2 separate regions of the Homo sapiens genome follow, and region 2 is linked to region 1. The links come from fine-mapping of genetic effects on gene expression. A gene starts in region 1. The other region holds a variant in brackets. All regions are shown on one strand. Distances are between the middles of the regions. Region 1 holds the start of OSBPL7 (oxysterol binding protein like 7). Region 2 has its middle 5.1 kb from the start of SP6.

Region 1 (8,000 bases):
ACACTTCTCCCTCCAGGCCAACTTCACAGACCCTACTGCAGGAACCCTTTCCTAGAGCACACCCCTTCCCTGGCGCTACTCCTCAGGCCCCTGCCCTGTGTGGGCACTCAGTATCTGCTTTGTCACAACTCCTGTCCCTGCATCCACGTCTGTCTATGTGCCCAGGCAGACTCTTACTCCTCTGTAAGACTGGGACTCCCCTAGACAGGGCCCAGGTAGACTGGATCTCCTTGGAGGCAGAGGCTGTCTCATTAAACTGGGGCTCCCTGAGGCAGGGATGGAGGTAACATTTTCCCCTCCTAGACCTGCCAGCTTGGGGCCTACCCTTGGAGGTGCTGCGCCTAGGGCCCCTCACCATGAGAGCAGCGGTCCAGCCCATCACTGTCCCTCAGCCAGGAAGACACTTTCTCCCGCGGTCCAAGCCCAGGTAGGGCTGAGGCAGTAGCTGCTGTTGGAAGCTGGGCACCAGGAACCTGTGGGGTGAGCCCAGGGTCAGGAAGGATGATGCCCACCTCCCTGGGTCTCACAGTTCTCCATAGCCCTTGCCCCTGAATTGCCACATTACCTGCCCCCACCCCAGGGTCCACCTTACCTTCCGGTGAGCAGTACTGGGCAGTGAGCCACGGGGCATGTCCAGGCGGTGGGCTAGGCGGTGGGCACGCAGCTGCGCCACCCAGCTCTGGAATAGGTCCTGGGATTTGATCTGCAGAAGTGATGGAGAGGGGGAGGGCTATCTGAAGAGAGGGACCACTTTCCAAGAGCAAGAAGTCAGGGCTCTGGTCCCCAGACAAGCAGGGTCTCTTCTTACAGAGCCTGGTTTGTGCAAGGCTCACTTGCAGGGAGACAGAGCGCAAGGCGCCCAGGTGTCTGAGCCCTTAGCTCTGTGCCTGTCCATACAACAACCAAGAAGTGCAGGTTTGCCCTTGGCTGTTTTTACAGGATGGAAACTTACTTTTTGTCAAACTCAGAGACAGACCCTGAGTTCCACAGACCCTCAGCCCCTGCCCCTGTGTGTTCCAATGCCTCTGTCAGGTTGGGGGCCAACACACGTCCTGCCTCCCAGGGATGTCACCTTGAGGTGGTAGATGTTGTCTTCAGTGTCAAGGTCAATGCGCTGGGCCTTTTTGTTGATGGACATGACCGACAGCCGGACATCGATGGAGCCATGGAGCTTCCCCTTGGTGATCTGGGGGTGAAGTGTTGGTAGAGGGAGAGGGGACCTGTTTTAGGCTCTCAGAGCCATAGAGCCACCATCTCCCTGATGCCATTCTAGGCTCAAGGGCCAGGTGGCAGGTTCACCCTCATGTCCAAGTCACACTATCAGTAGAGACTTGTCAATCATCCTCCCATGTGCAGAACGCTCCCCTACGTCAAGTCACATCTTGGTCTCTAAGAAGTCACAGATCAAGAAAAACTATTCCCACCCTCAGGGGTCTGCAGGGTTGTGGAAGGCAACACCCTCCCAGAGAGATCCTGGGTACCCAGGCCTTCAGTTCCTTGTTCCCAGCCTGAGAATGGGACCAGGATGAGGGTGGTAAAGCCCCCATTTCTTGGGCACTTATTCTGCCCTGTCCAGAGAGCCTTGTACGTATGACCTCCCTTACCATGACAGCTCTGCACCTGGGGGATGGTGCTCTCCCATTAGAGGTGAGGAAGCTATGGCCCAGGGATGTAACTTGCCCGAGATCACACATTCAGCAAGTGGTGGACCTGGGATTCAGACCCTGCTCTGGTCGATTCCAGATACCCCATGCCTGCCCAGGGCATACTGGGGCCAGACTCCTCCCACAACCCCAAGCCACTGCCCGGGCTCACGTCTTGCCGGGTTGTTGCATAATGAAGGATCCCGTCCTCGAGCACAAAGTATCTCTGTGATGTTGCCCAGGAGTGACAGGACCCGGGAGGCCGAGAGGAAGGGCATGAGGGAGAAGGCAACCACACAAATTAGCTTTTCTTTTCCTTCTCATCATGCAAACACCATTGGACTGCCCAGCAGCTGCCCCCCATTCCCACCCCGCCCCCCATGTCTGGACCCTCCCTTTGCCTGCCCACCCTACCTTGTGCCAGCCCTTCAGAGGCCACTTCCTCTTCTTGAGCAGGTGACCTTCCTGCCTCTCAGGCATGACACCCTCTGTCCCCAGCCTGACCCGAGGCTCCTCCACCACCTCCCACAGCTCAGAGGCCTGCAGTCCAGGACAGAGGGAGGGGAGCACTGGTGAGACGTCCGCCTTGGCCCCTCCCTGTCTGGTTCCAGCTTGGCCCACCCACCACCGCTTTCCCACTCTCTGACCTGCTGAGCACTGCTGGGCTTTGAGGACTGAGCGCTCTCAGGCAGGAAGGGCGGGTCCCTCTCTTGGAAGTCCATGGAGAAGGGAGAGGCCACTCCCTGCTGGGGATGTAGAGCAGGGAGCAGGGTGGAAGGGGAAGGATGTCACCTGCTCCTGACGGGGTCCTTGAAGCAAGAGAAAGACCCCCTTAACGCAAACTCTGCTATCACCTTCCCCACCTCCAGCCCCTCCCACACCCTCTGAGATAAGGGCTCCCCAACATACCCTCTGCTCACCTGCCAAGCCTCTCCCAAGTCTGCCCCTCTGTCCCGACCCCACCCATTTTCACCTGATATGGACACTGCCCTGAGAGTGAACTAGCACACAGCAGACGGGCAGGTGCCCAGGGAAAACCACAAGACATATGCCCAGCCCCGCCTTGGGCACATACTCTGGGGCTCCAAGAAACATTCAGTGCTTTCTTTAGAGGCTTCCCTGGGAGTGCTCAGAGGTGAAGCAAGGGAGTGACAGAAGAGGCTCCAAGAAGAGACAGAGGGGTTCAGAGACTGGACAAGCGAGACCTCCTCAATCCAGCTGCCTCTGCCTTCAGGACCCCTCCACCCTGCCACCGTAGCTCAGAGACTTCTCTGCCATGATCTTGCAGAAAACTCCCCAGCCTCCCACCAATTAATCTCCATATTATCTAGTGCTTGGAGAAACTGAGGCCTGAGATAGCCCCCATTTTCCCATGTCTCCTCCCACCAAACATGCCCCTAGGATGCCCTTTTTGGACCCTCAGTACCCCCTAAAGCCTCACCATCCCCTGTCTACCCTCACAGTCCTTGGGGCTCTGAGAAGTGCCACCCACCCAGAGAGGGCAGGACATTGGGCTAAAGGAGATACTTCATGAGAGAAGAGGGGGCCCAGGACATGCCCAGGTCTGCACAGGTCCTGCAGCAGTGCCCACAGGCACCCTTGGCACTGGCCCTGGCCATCCTGGCTCCACCGGGAGATCAATAATGCATGAGGCTCTGCATGTGTGAGACGGGGGAGGGGACTGGAGGGGCGAGGCTGGTTTGAGGTGGGGGAAGCAGCCCAGATCTTCTAATGGAGCTAGCAAGCACCTGAGGAACTGAGGCCCAGAGGGGACAGGGATGTGGCAGGAACGGGTGCCCAGGAGGTTGGGGCAGAGGGACCCTTGCTGCAAGAGGCTGACCTGGGAGGAAACTCCTGCATTCAGCCATTGAAAGTTCTCAAACTCTTCCGGTGTTCAGGTATCTCTGGGCCCTTCTCCCGGCCCTGTGGGGATCCTGGCCCCTCACTGCTTGTGGGTAGAGGGGGAGGCTCTATCGGTAGGCAGGTGAAGGGTCTAGGTGAGCCAGGTGGGTGCCCCCTCTCCACCTCTATTCAGGAGCAGACCCACCAGCTTCAGGTGGGAGGAAGCTCTTCTCAGGAATGTCAGCTGCTGCCACGCAGCCCCCTTACCCCAGGGTCCATGGACGCCAGTACTCCTTGGCCCTTGCGCCGCTCTGCCTCTGAGTCACCGTCTCCGAGTCACCGGCTCCCTCCTCACCGCGCTGAGCAGTGGCAGCAGCTGCTGCAGGAACCAGGAAGGAAGGAGATGTCAGAGCCTCCCCTCTAGCCGGATCTCCCCACCTCCCTCTCCCCTGTCCCCTCCTCCCGCCAAGCTCCGGGCAGCCGCTCAGCTCTGCCCCCCTGCTCCCCGGAGGACTCAGGGCTGAGCAGACTGCCCTAGCATCGATGTGGCTTGGGAGTGGGGGCACAGTCCCTGCTGGGCATGGTTCCAGATAGATCAGAGGACTGGGGAACTGTTGGCTGTACGCCAGTGGTGATAAAGGATTTATTCAGACTAGCATGGCAGTGACCCTGTTAGTACCCAAGGCCAATTCCTAATTAACCCCCGCCCCCCGCCTCTCATTTTACATCTGAAAATAGACTGCAAAATTTGGAGCCAGCAAAAGTATCAGGTTGATGGTGGAGGGACAGATGCCCCCTCTGGGACCATAAGAGAGTGCCAAGAGCACAGTCAGCAGGGGCAGTCAAGCCAGGAAAGGGACAGCCAGCAGTCCCCACACTGAGGCCCTTCACTGGGGTGATGCCCCACTAGGTCAGGCCCCATGGAGATCTGAAAGTGCTTGTGTGTATGAAGACACCCCACAGCCTGCAGTCTCTGATCAGGAGCAGGCCTGGGGCAGTCACAGCTGCCGTTAAAAGGGCTGCAATGCTGGTCCCCTCCCTTCCCTTTACCCTTCTGCTGGAGTACTGTGCCCAGCTGCTCAATTCTAATGAAAAATCGGCTCTTAACAAAGATCTAAAATTCATTCAAATGAATGTGGCATAGACCTACAGTTTCAAGCGCAGCTAAGTTTTCTGGAAAGAAGTAGGTGGGGCCTCAGGTGAAGGATGTGATTCAAGTTTCTTCTCTGACCCCAAAAGTGACATGGGCCACTTATCCCTTCCACTTCATCCTCACCGAGCTTGGTTTACGTTTCAGGGTCTCACATATCTCTCGGGAACACCCACTGTCTTGCCTTTATTCAGAGCCTCAGTGCTGCTCCAGCCACCCCAGGAGGAGGGTGTTGTTAGCACCTGGCAGGGTTCTGGGAGGGACAGGAGCACTGGGCAGCACTGACCAGACAAGCTCTGGCATCCAGGAGCCTCAAGGGCCTTTTAAGCCACTTCCCAGTGATTGAACATCCCTGGGCATACAGCACAGGATGAGGCACTGGGGGAAGCTGGTCCTGGCCCAGGCCACAAAAGAGCTGCTGCAGGTCATCCCTGCCAGACAGTGCCTGTCCAAGACTAAGGAAGCGGTGGCATTGCTTCAAGTCCGAGAAGGAATGTTGAACAGCCACCTTCCCCGGGTCACCCCTGCATCCACCCAGAATGTGCTCCAGTCAAGGATGATGGTGGACTCTGAGTTAAGCATCCCGTCTCCTTTATTAGGAATTTCTGGTTCATGAAGACTTGCATGAGGCCTCCTACCCTAGAGCTCTCAGAATTCCCCATTAATAGAGAATCCTAGTTTTCCCGCAGGCCTTTTGTCCAGAACCACCAGAGACACGTTAGCTAGTGGGTACAGCTGTCAGCTGCCTTTAATAGGGCAAGCATGCGCGGGATGCCATTTGTGGGAACAGGTATAGGGGAAGAGGATTTTCCTAGGAAGGGAAGCAAGAGTGAGGAAAGTCAGATGACAGAGAAGCCCCTGAGAGTAAGTTTAGAGGGAGGACAACCGTGTAAACCACAAAATAAAGGAAGTAGAATATATTTCATTTTATTATAAAGCAGTGCTCCCAAACTTTTCACAGCGTACACCTCGAGGGTGGAGAACTAACATCCAAGCACACCTGGATGGTGGATGGGACCCACTTCTGGGTAACCTGATGAGGAAGCTCTAGTGAAGAAATTCAGGACGCGGTCTTCAGAGCAGAGGGCTTGGTTCAAGTCCCTGTTCTGCCACTTACTAACTGCATGACCTTGAGCAAGCCACTTAATTTCTCTGCTCCTTCTCTGTGAAATGGGTACAATGTGGTCAGCAGTAAAGGAACTAATACATGTACAGCACTCAGCACAAAGCCTGGCACACAGCAGGCTCTCACCAGGTGCCATTCTCAGCACAACTGCTTGGTTGAGCTACTGTGGCAGTGGCAGGTTGTGCCCCAAGGGGGTGGGCTCAGGAGCCCGTGCAGCAAGAGGCAGTGACCAAGGAGGCAGGGGACAATAGCCCTATCTTTTCAGGATCTCTGCCTTGGACCTGGAGAATGGAGAGACTTTGCTCCTATCACGTCCCAAGTTGGGAAAACTAAGGACGAAGCCGGTGACTGACATCTGAAATGGAATCCTCTGCATCTCCAAGTGGCCCTATACCTGACAATATCATTACTAGTGAAAACCAAGTGACAAACACACTCCCCGACCCCAAGTTCTTCCACATGTCCCATTGAGGAGAGCACAGCCAATAACGCAGAGTGTATTTATGCGCAGGGCTGGCTAAACAGGCTGGCTACGAGTCCGGAACAGTGTCAGGATCTGGCTTCCCATTGGCCGACATGACAGAATCCTTCTCGCGTTGCTCTCTGATGTACTGGTCCAACAGGGTGGTCAGCTGGAGGGGCTGGTGCTGGAGCAGGGAGTGGGTCTGGGCTGTGAGGCAGGTGAGGCCTCCTACAAGCTCCCCCTGCACCAGGGGCAGGCTGGGGAGCTTGGAGTAGTTGATAAAGCCCTGCCTGCTGAGGATGGTGTCATCAATGCAGCCACCTGGAAGAACACAGGGTCAGTTAGGCTCCTTGCAGATTGCCTTTCTTCTCTGAAAACAATATTCTGACCCTAGTAACTTGCTCTCCATTGCCCTTCTCAAAATCCTGCCTTCCCCAGGACCTGGGTTCCACTGTGCCCCACACCACACCCACTCTGCTTGGGATCGATCCCTACTTCTTCACTCTTCCCTCAGAAAACTCTTAATATATCCACCTGGCCCTGACCCCTATTAAGTCAGTGTTTCCTAAACTTCCTTGTAAATAAGAATCAGGCAGCCAGGTGTGGTGGCTCATGCCTGTAATCCCAGCACTTTGGGAGGCTGAGGCAGGCAGATCACCTGAGGTCAGGAGTTCAAGACCAGCCTGGCCAACATGGAGAAACCCCGTCTCTACTAAAAATACAAAAATTAGCCAGGCATGGTGGCGAGCGCCTGTAATCCAAGCCACTCGGGAGGCTGAGGCAGGAGAATCGTTTGAACCCGGGAGGTAGAGGTTACAGTAAGCTGAGATCGTGCCATTGCACTCCAGCCTGGGTGACAAGAGCAAAACTTCGTCTCAAAAAAAAAAAAAAAAAAAAGAATCAGGATGAGGTTGGGTACGGTGGCTCAAGCCTGTAATCCCAGCACTTTGGGAGACCAAGGTCGGTGGATCACCTGAGGTCAGGAGTTTGAGATCAACCTGGCCAACATGGTGAAACCCCGTTTCTACTAAAAATACAAAAATTAGCCAGGCATGGTGGCAAGCACCTGTAATCCCAGCTACTTGGGAGGCTGAGGCAAGAGAATCGCTTAAACCTGGGAGGCGGAGGTTGCAGTGAGCTGAGATCACGCCATTGCACTCCAGCCTGGGCAACAACTGCGAAACTCCGTCTCAAAAAAACAAAGAATCAGGCTGGGTGCAGTGGAAAACGCCTGTAATCCCAACACTTCAGGAGGCCAAGGTGGCATAATTGCTTGAAACTAGCAGTTCAAGACAAGCCTGGGCAACATGGTGAATACAAATACAAAAAATACAAAAATTAGCTGGACATGGTGGCATGCGCCTGTAGTCCCAGCTACTTAGGAAGTTAAGGTGGGAGGATGGATTAAGCCAAGGAGGTCCAGGCTGCTGTGAGCCATGACCGGACCACTGCACTCCAGCCTGGGCAATGGGAGTGAGACCCTGAATCATGGAATGGAGGGAAGTAACGGGGAACTATTGTTTAATGGGTGTAGAGTTTCACTGTTAGAAGACAAAACGTTCTGGAGATGGATGGTGGTGATGTTGCATAGCATTATGAATGTACTTAACACGGAACTGTACATTTAAAATGGTTAAGATGGTAAATTTTGTGTGTATTTTACAATTAAAAAATTGAATAAATATCATGGAGTGTTGAGGGGGTATTAAAATCACAGATTCACCAGGAGCGGTGGCTCATGCCTGTAACCCCAGCACTTTGGGAGGCTGAGGTGGC
Region 2 (8,517 bases), 34 kb after region 1:
TGTCCTTCGGGAAATGCTCAGCCTACGCACACCCTCGCCCCCGAGCACCCGGTTCTGAAGAATGGGCAGGCGCCTGAATGGCCCTGGGAAGGGACACTTCTGGAAGGAATTGAGCTATCCCTTGCCACCATTCCTTTCTAATTCTCACCAGAATAACTAAACCCAAGGTTCTTAACTTTGGGGAGGGGTCTTGGATTCCTTTGAGAAAAATTCACATGCCCAGTGCAATATTCTGGTAAAATTTCAGCGCGCTCGCGGAGCTCACAAAAACTTCCCTCAAGATCTGGATGGGTCGACATTTCCGAGACCCGCAAAGCACCGGTGGGTAGGGAAGTTCCGTCCTCCACCCACGCATTCTTCTGCCTGGCCGCTGAGGTGGCCCCATGCTTCACTCCCATGCCGCAGTGTTGATCTCTCCATGTGACCCCTTTTTTCACAGGGGAATGCAGATTAATTTCCCTATTTCTTTCATTTTTCAGATTCGTCTCCTCTGTGCGCTTTGCCGTCGGCTTTTTAAAATTTCGTTTTCCTCTTTACAGTCGATTTCATACTTGAATTTAGGCTGATTTAATCTCGCCTCTACAGCCCCTACTCCCCCCCGCCATTGGTTTACCTGTCCTGCATGCCCGTTTGGGACACACTCAAACTGTAACTCAAAAATAGCTAAACCGAGTGCATAAGCGGGGTGAAAATCAATCCATGTGTGTATGCGTATGTGCATGGTACCCCTCAGACACGCACACGTTCTTATCCAGAATCGACGTCGGATTCATCTGTGCATCTCCCTCTTTTCTAAGGCTCATTTCCCTCATCCGGACAACCTGGGTACACATTGGTAGGGTCTCCTGGGGGCTTAAAGGAATTGATATGCCTAAAAATGCTTAGCCCAAGGGGCCCCTGGTAAGCGCCGGGTAAATGGAAGATATCCTTGTTATAATTATTAAATAAGTCAGTTCCAGGTAAATATTGGTTGGATTAAGGTGTATGCACAAAGACCTGTGGACTAGAAGTTGACGGATTTAAATTCTAGCCCCAGCCCTGCACTTGCTAAACTGACCCTGGCAGGTCAGGTGCCTCTAAGCCTCAGTTTCTTCCTTGGTGAAATGCTGTAAAAGCAGCCACCAAGCTAGAGAAGTGACAGGTATTTGGAAGCCGGAGATGCCGCCTGACATCGGGGGATTGAGATTTCTGATCAGTCGGGGTTTGCTTTTTGCCTTCTTGTTACTTGGGGCTCTGGATGTGGATTCACAGGAACTGCTCTGGATCTTTGTGGCCATGGCTAATTTGACAATCAATCCTCTTCATCAACGCAGCTTTGTCTCCATCCATTCAGCCTACAAATCCTGGCCAGTTGGGTTTGTATCCTAGTTCACAGCTACCTCTGGAATGGAGTAGACACTCATCAGGTCCAAAACAGAGCCCCCAGTGGGGGACTCTGGTTCCTGATTTGACCTCTGGGCATTCCTGCCTCCTCCTCCAAGCTGCCTGCTGGTGCTGCATCTACTGTTCCTAAGGTGCTAAAGCCTGTGCAGGGGTCTGACTCTGGGTAGGGGACCAAGTTCCCCTCCCATTTATAGGCATCAGATTGCCTTCTCTTCCTGGCCCCTTCTGCCTTTTCCCTGGAAAGCAACAGGGATTCAGCCCGAGGATGGTAGACACTCCCTGCTACTTTCACTCTAGGCCCCCTTTAGCCCTGCCCCGATCCAACCAGACCTGTAGCCATCTGGAATTCCACCAGCAAAGACCCTCCATCTGCCTGCAGCTCATCAGCAGGAAATTCAACAACAATGCAGTTGTCTCTGGAAACTCCCAGCCATTCTGATTTCCTGCTCTGCCTAGGTTTCTGCTGCTCACTCAGGGTACTGGCACTATCTTTCCTCCAGTCCCCCTCTACTTGCAGTCCTCTGCTTCCAGCCCTTTTGGTTTCCCACTTGCTAAATGTTTTCCCACCGAATGACGGCGCATGGTCTGATGTTAACTTAATGAGCAAGGTCACCACAGCCCATTGCCCATATACTTATTGCTACTCAAAATTGAACAACACAGCCCATCACATCTCCTGTATAAACTGAGATCTGTCTTGGACTTGGGCCATTTCTGCTGCTCTTCCTCATTCTCTCAAATAAATAGTCAGATTTCCCCTGCAAGTGTCCAACCCCCATTCCTGCCACCCCTCTTCTTCTCAAGCTTCATCTATAGTCAGTGATCCACTTTGTACCTGGAGAAATCTCATTAGTCTGCGTGTTTATCACAAACGGCATTTATTTACTGAGCACCTACTATGTTCCAGATGCTTTACACAAATATCTCTAATTCTCATGGGCATGCAGCAAAGTAATTATTATTATTCCCGTTGTACAGATGAGGAAGCCAAAGATCAAAGAAGTTAAATGATCTACCCAAGATTACAGAGTTGTTAAAAGACAGAAGAAGAAACTGAGTTCAGATCTCTCAGGTTCCAAAGCCTGTATTCTGCCTACTAGTCCATCTGGCCTCAATATGGCAGAATTGATGACCCTGGAAGTCTGGCTCCCCTAGAGCCTGAAGGTGGAGGAAACAGCATTCTTAAATGAATCCCTAGATCAAAGCCATCTCCTATCTTGAGTCTAATGGACAAACTGATCCCATCTTGAATTGCTGAGACAAGTCAGACTCTACACTTGTGATCCCTTCCAAACTTCAACTGTCCTGTAGAGATTGCACTATGAGAATATCAAAGCTGGTCTAGCCCCAAATTGTCTCGTCCAAGCCCTCGTTTTACTGGTAGGGAAACCAAACCCCAAAACAGGGACGTTAGTAGCAAGTTAGAAGCAGAGCTGGGACCAGACCAGAGTCTGGTCCTGTTTTCCTCTTCTCACTCACTCCTCTCCTCCATTTCCCACTCCCACCTTCGGGCTGCACTTCCAAGCCTGCAAGCTGATGACCCTGGATGCCAACATATTCCTTATTTCCCCTCCTCTCCCCACCATACTCTCCTGATTCTTAGAAAACCAGATAGAGCCTAAAGCTGGGGTCAAATAGTTTTCTTTCATTCATCCTTTATTTCATTCAACAAACACTTATCGAGGGTCTACTTAAGGCCAAGCACAATGCTGGACACTAATTTTATTATAAATTTCAAAATCCCTAGCTACCACCATCGCTTTTCAGTCTAGAAGATGAACCCACCTGAGGATAGTGCATCTGTATGTCGGTGTGTGTATATCTACAAATGTGTGTACATATTATGCCTGTGTGTACCTGTGGGCTTGAGTGTAGGGTGTCTTCTCTCCTCCACCGTAAATGCAGTTCCCCATAGGATGTGGATAGTGGTTTCTCCCTTACTATCCTTGCAGGTGTTCTGTCATTCAGGGCAGTGAGTGTGTGTGCCCTGTATTTCTATTAACATTTATTTGCCCTTCCTTTCTCTCGAAATAAAGTTCCCAGCTATGAATCCCTACCCCACTTCTCCACTGGGCTGACTACCCCAGCCCAGTCAAAAGACCTCCAAGGGATCCCTTTAGTTCTCCATGCAAACCCCACCAAGATCTCCCTCTTATCTCCCCCTTCCCAATTCAGAGAGAACCAGACCCTTCTCTATGACCCCCACTTTAGAGTGGAGACCTGATCCTCTTTGTGGAGGTCCCCTGTACTGGACAGGGAACAGCCTCTCTTACCAGTCCATGGAGCCCAGAGCTGGCGGCGGCAGTGAGGGCCAAGTGGCGGTGATAAAAGAGCCAGGCTTTATAAAGGAGGTGACAGGCAGTGCCAAAGGGGGAGGTGAAGGAGGGAGCAGGGATGCTGCCAAGTCCTCACGGCCTCAGAAGCTTTTAGGATAATCCAGGAAACAGTGGCCCCCAGCTCTCCTAGGGGAGTGGTAGGAGGTGAGATCTGAGTCCGTGAGGTCTGCCAGGAAAGGAGGATTTCAGCTGGGAGTGGGGGCTGGGGGCACTTCCTTCCTTCCGCAGAGTTGGCTGGGCAGTGGGAGAGGGACAAAG[T/C]GGTTCTTGCAGGATGGAGGAAATGACAGCATTGCTAGGGTGGAGAGCTGGGATAGCTGGAACTCTCCAAATTCCATCCCCTCTTCCTGAGTTTTCCTCCATGGACTTGGTAAGAGAGAAAGAAGTTCCATTTTTGAGACCTGAAGGGCTCATGCCCCCAACAAACACACACACACCACACGTCTTCAAGTCAGTTCCTCCTTGCAGAGCTTCATGTCAGTGTTGTTGGCCTCTCTGAGCCACAATTTCTCTCGCTCCCTTTTCATCCTCTTTTTACATACTCACTTCCCAACTTGGATCCCCCAAGAGGACCCAGTGTAATCTATCTTTTGGACCTGGGATCTCTCATTGTCAAATGGGAAGGGAGGACCTTTTCCCTGACTTTGGATGGAGTGGGGAAGCTTAGGATGGACAAGAGGTCACCTAAGACCAGAAAGACCAGAGGCAGAGTCCAGCCAAGAACTGCTACAGACAGTTCAGGACTCCTGGAACTCCAGGAGGGTGAAGAGGGTAGGAAGGTGGCCTGGAAAAGGGAGAAGGGGCCTGAAGGTGAATTTAGGGGGAGCCCCCAGATCTCTATTTATATGAGCCTAATTTTAGGGTGGTTGTAAGTTTAGGTATACTGGCTAACACAAACATGTCCCAGGGCAGAGATGGACAAAAGACCAGGAAGGAGAACGGAGATGAAACAGAAGAGTAAGACTTGTTTCCCAAAGCTCACTGAAGCTGTGAACTCTGACCCACATAGGAGAGTGGCCTGGGGACTTTTCACGGGATGACATCCTGTTTTTGACCACAGCCCAATGCCCTTGGCAGAGGACAGGAGCAGTTGTACCCCCTCTACACACACCAGAACCCAGTACCCCAAGACTTACATGCTACCTCCCTCCCAGGATGAGCCAGGGAGTCTTTACCCAAAACTCTTCTCCTGCTCCTCCCCTATACCCTCAGCAACCTCTAGACTGGGGATTCCCAGTCTCTTCATTAACTTTTCAGCAATTATCCCATAAAGGCCCTGACAGGTCCTTCCTCTCCCCATTTCAGAGATGAGAACACTGAGGCCCTGAAGAGGTAAAAGCTCAGCAGAAAGCCACCCATCAAGCAGGAGAGAATAGAGTATTAGAGGGCTTAGGAGGCAGAGCTGGACCTCTTTCTTCAATCTTAGGCAAAATTGGGAGGACAGGGCCAGCACAACCCCCTGGGGGAACCCAGGCATCAGGACTGAGGCAGGCTCCAGGGAGGGGCTTCCCTGTCCCTCCCCACCTTCCAGCACAGAAAATCAGAGTGGGGAGGGGAAACAAGCTGAGGAGACCACACAGGTGGAGTAAATAATGTTAATACGGGAGCATTATCACTAGGGCATTTCCTCATGGATAAATGTCTCAAATACCAAAGGATGCCTCCAAATTATAGTTAATTACAGAGTTGATTTGCATAAATTATAAGGTGAGCATACAAATTCTTTCAATCGGTTCCATATGCTTAGGTAGCAGGTCCAGTCCAAAAGATGGGAGAATCTTGGGGTTGGGGGGGAGTTTGGGAGAGGAAAAAGACCCAGCCCTCAACCTGGACCTTCAGGCCCACACACCTTCCCCTGGCCTCTGGATCAGTCAGGGGTGTGTTTAGACCCTGCCTGGACAGCAATGAACACAGCCAGCACCCTACCTGGCAGGAGACCCCCTTTCCTCCTCTATTCGCACCTCCAGACAATGTGTTTTCCTAACACCAGTGATGGGCGGGAGAGAGGAGCTGGGAAAGCTATGGGTGGGTGCCATGCGGCCTGTAGCTTGGAGTGGGGGGCGGGACTGCAGAGTCCTGGCTTCTGGCCTTTGGAGCCAGAAGAGGGGAGGGGGCTGAGGAAGCTGAAGACCCAGTGGGGCTGAGGGTAGATTCAATTCAAGCCCCTCTCTCTTGATCTCAGCTCCCCTACCCGCCCCCTGGCCCCCACACGAGCCACCTCCCCCAACTCCAGCAGCTCACTCCCAGCGCCAGCCCTCGGATCTCAGGTTTGATGTTGCCGCTGCCTGCACCTTCCAGGTGGCTCCTCAGCGGCTCAGACTCCCAGACTTTCGTCTCCAGTGCCTGGGCCTATTTCCTCTGCCCTCGCCTCTCGGTCTCCCACCTCCTCCTCCCGCCCCTAGCTGCTAAGACTCTACTTCCTTCTTCAGCTCTCTAATTTGTTCCTCCCTCCGGCCCCCATCCTCAGCCCCAGAGGCCCATCTCCTACTGTTCTTCCTTCCATCTTTCTCCTCCTTGCCCAGCCTCCCTCCCCTAAAGATCCCAGGGCTCCCCTACACTCAGCTGTCAACTTCCCTTTTCCCACCCACCAACTGCTTTCTGCTTTCCAAGCTACTCTTCCTCCCACCCCTAAGCTTGCTTACCTCACTGTCCCCCAAATCCTTACTGCATGTAGTTCTCTGATTTTTCTCAATATACCTGCTCCAAAGGCAGACACTACTGGATTCGCTTAGGCTGCAAGGGGGAGGCTGGGCTAAGTAAGATCTCCCAAGTGTGTGCAGGTGAGAGTTTACCTTCATCTTTTTATCTTAGGGCAGGGGAAGATGATGAAGAAAGAGCCTAAAATGGTGTCTGGTACTTAGCAAGTATCTTACAAATATTTGTTTAATTGACAAATGAGGTGGAAATGGGCACTGGTCTGTGGAAATTCTGTGGAAGTGTCAACTTGCTGACAAAAATTACTACTTGTCTCGATTAATTTTCAGGTCTCCTATGCCACTTCTGTACCCACCAACCTAAGCTTTCCTGCACCTAATTAATGACAGATGAAGCATCTTTTTTTTTTTTTTTTTTTTTTTTTTTGAGACAGTCTCCCTCTATCACCCAGACTGGAGTGCAGTGGCGCCATCTTGGCTCACTGCAACCTCAGCCTCCTGGGTTCAAGTGATTCTCATGCCTCAACCTCCCAAGTAACCGGGATTACAGGCACCCACCATCATGCCTGGCTAATTTTTGTATTTTTGGTAGAGACGGAGTTTCACCACGTTGACCAGTCTCCTCTAGAACTCCTGGCCTCAGGTGATCCACCTGCCTCAGCCTCCCAAAGGGCTGGGATTACAGGCGTGAGATATGATGCCTGGCCTAATCATCCTAAAGTGCCACTCCATCTTGGCACTTCCCATCTCCAACACATCCAGTGGCTCCACAGTGCTAAATGTGTCATCCAGGACCCTCCCACTTCACCTACGCAGTCTTCTCTCCCGCTGGTCCTCATACAAACCCTACAGCCCAGCTCAGCCCAATGGATTTAATGTTCACCAAACATGTCCAGCCTTCCTACCTTTGTCGAAATCATTTCCACCCCTGCCAGCCATTCTTGCCTCTGGAAAGCACATTATCCTTCAAGCTCCTGGCTGGCACATAGGCGGCTTTCTCTGCAAAGGCTTCTCTTATCCGCACATCACTGGCATGCTCCTCTGAACTTCCTCAGCACTTATTGCCTCATGCTCTGCTTCCATGGGCTTGTTTTCTTATCTTCTCTACTGGTTGAATCCTTGAGGGCAAGAACTCTATCCTTTCATGCCACAGGGTCCTCAGGCCAGAGCCTTTCTTTGAGAAAGGGATGGATAAGCCACAGCTGAGTGAATTAGAGAAAGGGCTCCCCAGAATCCAAGCTTCCAGAAGCTCCTCAGCTTGGGGAGGGCATCAGTGAAGGCAGAAGCCTGGGTCGGGGAACTTAAAACCCAAAGATCCATGAAGTAAGCACACACAGCTTCCTACTGTCCCCCTGGCTGGCCCTGGTTGTGTGATGGAAGTGGAAGGACCCACAGAGTATCTGGGACATGCAGGGTTGGAGTGAGGGCTGAGGGAGAGTGAAGCTCCCCACCCTGTCACCCTGCTTGGAACAAGGAATTGGAGGTTTGGGGCAAAGGAGCAAGGGCGGTAAGTGGAGCCGAGAGAAAAGGCTGGCTGGGTGTCAGTCACGGAGACAGGCAGAGGCAGAAAAAGCAGAATCCCCTCAGTCCCTCGGTAGGAATTTAAACTTCTTACAAGGGTGGAAAGATCCCAGTCATGTCGTGCCTCAGCTCAAAAACATTCAATAGCCCCCCATTACCTACAGGAGAAAATCTACACTCTTAGGCCTAGGATTGAAGCCCCATTCCCCATCTGGCCTCAGCCTCCCTTTCCAGCCACATCCCTTCCCACTCCCCAGGAGGCTTCTACTCCATCCTTACCGTCCACATATTTTCACGCCCCACACTGTTCCATGTGTGAAATGCTCTTCCCCATTTCTCTGCCTGATGAGCTCCTATGGATCTTTTAAATCCCAACTCCTATGTCCCCATGCTCTCTAAAGCCTTCTCCAGTTTTTCAAGTTGTACTTTTCTGTGCTCCCATAGTTCTAAAATATAGAGCGTTTAATATTCTCTGATGGGTAATACAATTAGCTGTGTGCATGTGTAAGATCGTGAGTTCCTTGAGGGACTGGAAATTTCTGTTCATCTTTGAATCTCCCCCAGCATCTTATACAGCAACTAGTACTGAGTGTGCAATAAATATATGTTGCACTGGATTGAATTTA

What was found.
Region 2: its variant is fine-mapped to the expression of OSBPL7 in esophagus muscle (GTEx, PIP 0.94).

Annotation. Positions count from the first base shown.
Region 1 is chr17:47,817,914-47,825,913 of GRCh38, forward strand. It overlaps OSBPL7 (oxysterol binding protein like 7), which reads right to left and starts at 3,881. Exons shown (of 23, transcript NM_145798.3): 1 at 3,753-3,881; 2 at 2,291-2,452; 3 at 2,058-2,183; 4 at 1,816-1,869; 5 at 1,073-1,186; 6 at 593-703; 7 at 356-473. The coding sequence starts at 2,365. MRPL10 (mitochondrial ribosomal protein L10) reads right to left here. Exons shown (of 5, transcript NM_145255.4): 5 at 5,359-6,545. The coding sequence ends at 6,292. RefSeq lists a silencer at 3,844-4,059 and an enhancer at 4,170-4,339.
Region 2 is chr17:47,851,998-47,860,514 of GRCh38, forward strand. It overlaps a transcript of SP6 not described here. Among named protein-coding and RNA genes, the nearest start is that of SP6, 5.1 kb to the left of the region's middle. RefSeq lists a silencer at 1,795-1,986. The variant T/C (reference allele first, on the strand shown) is at 3,978.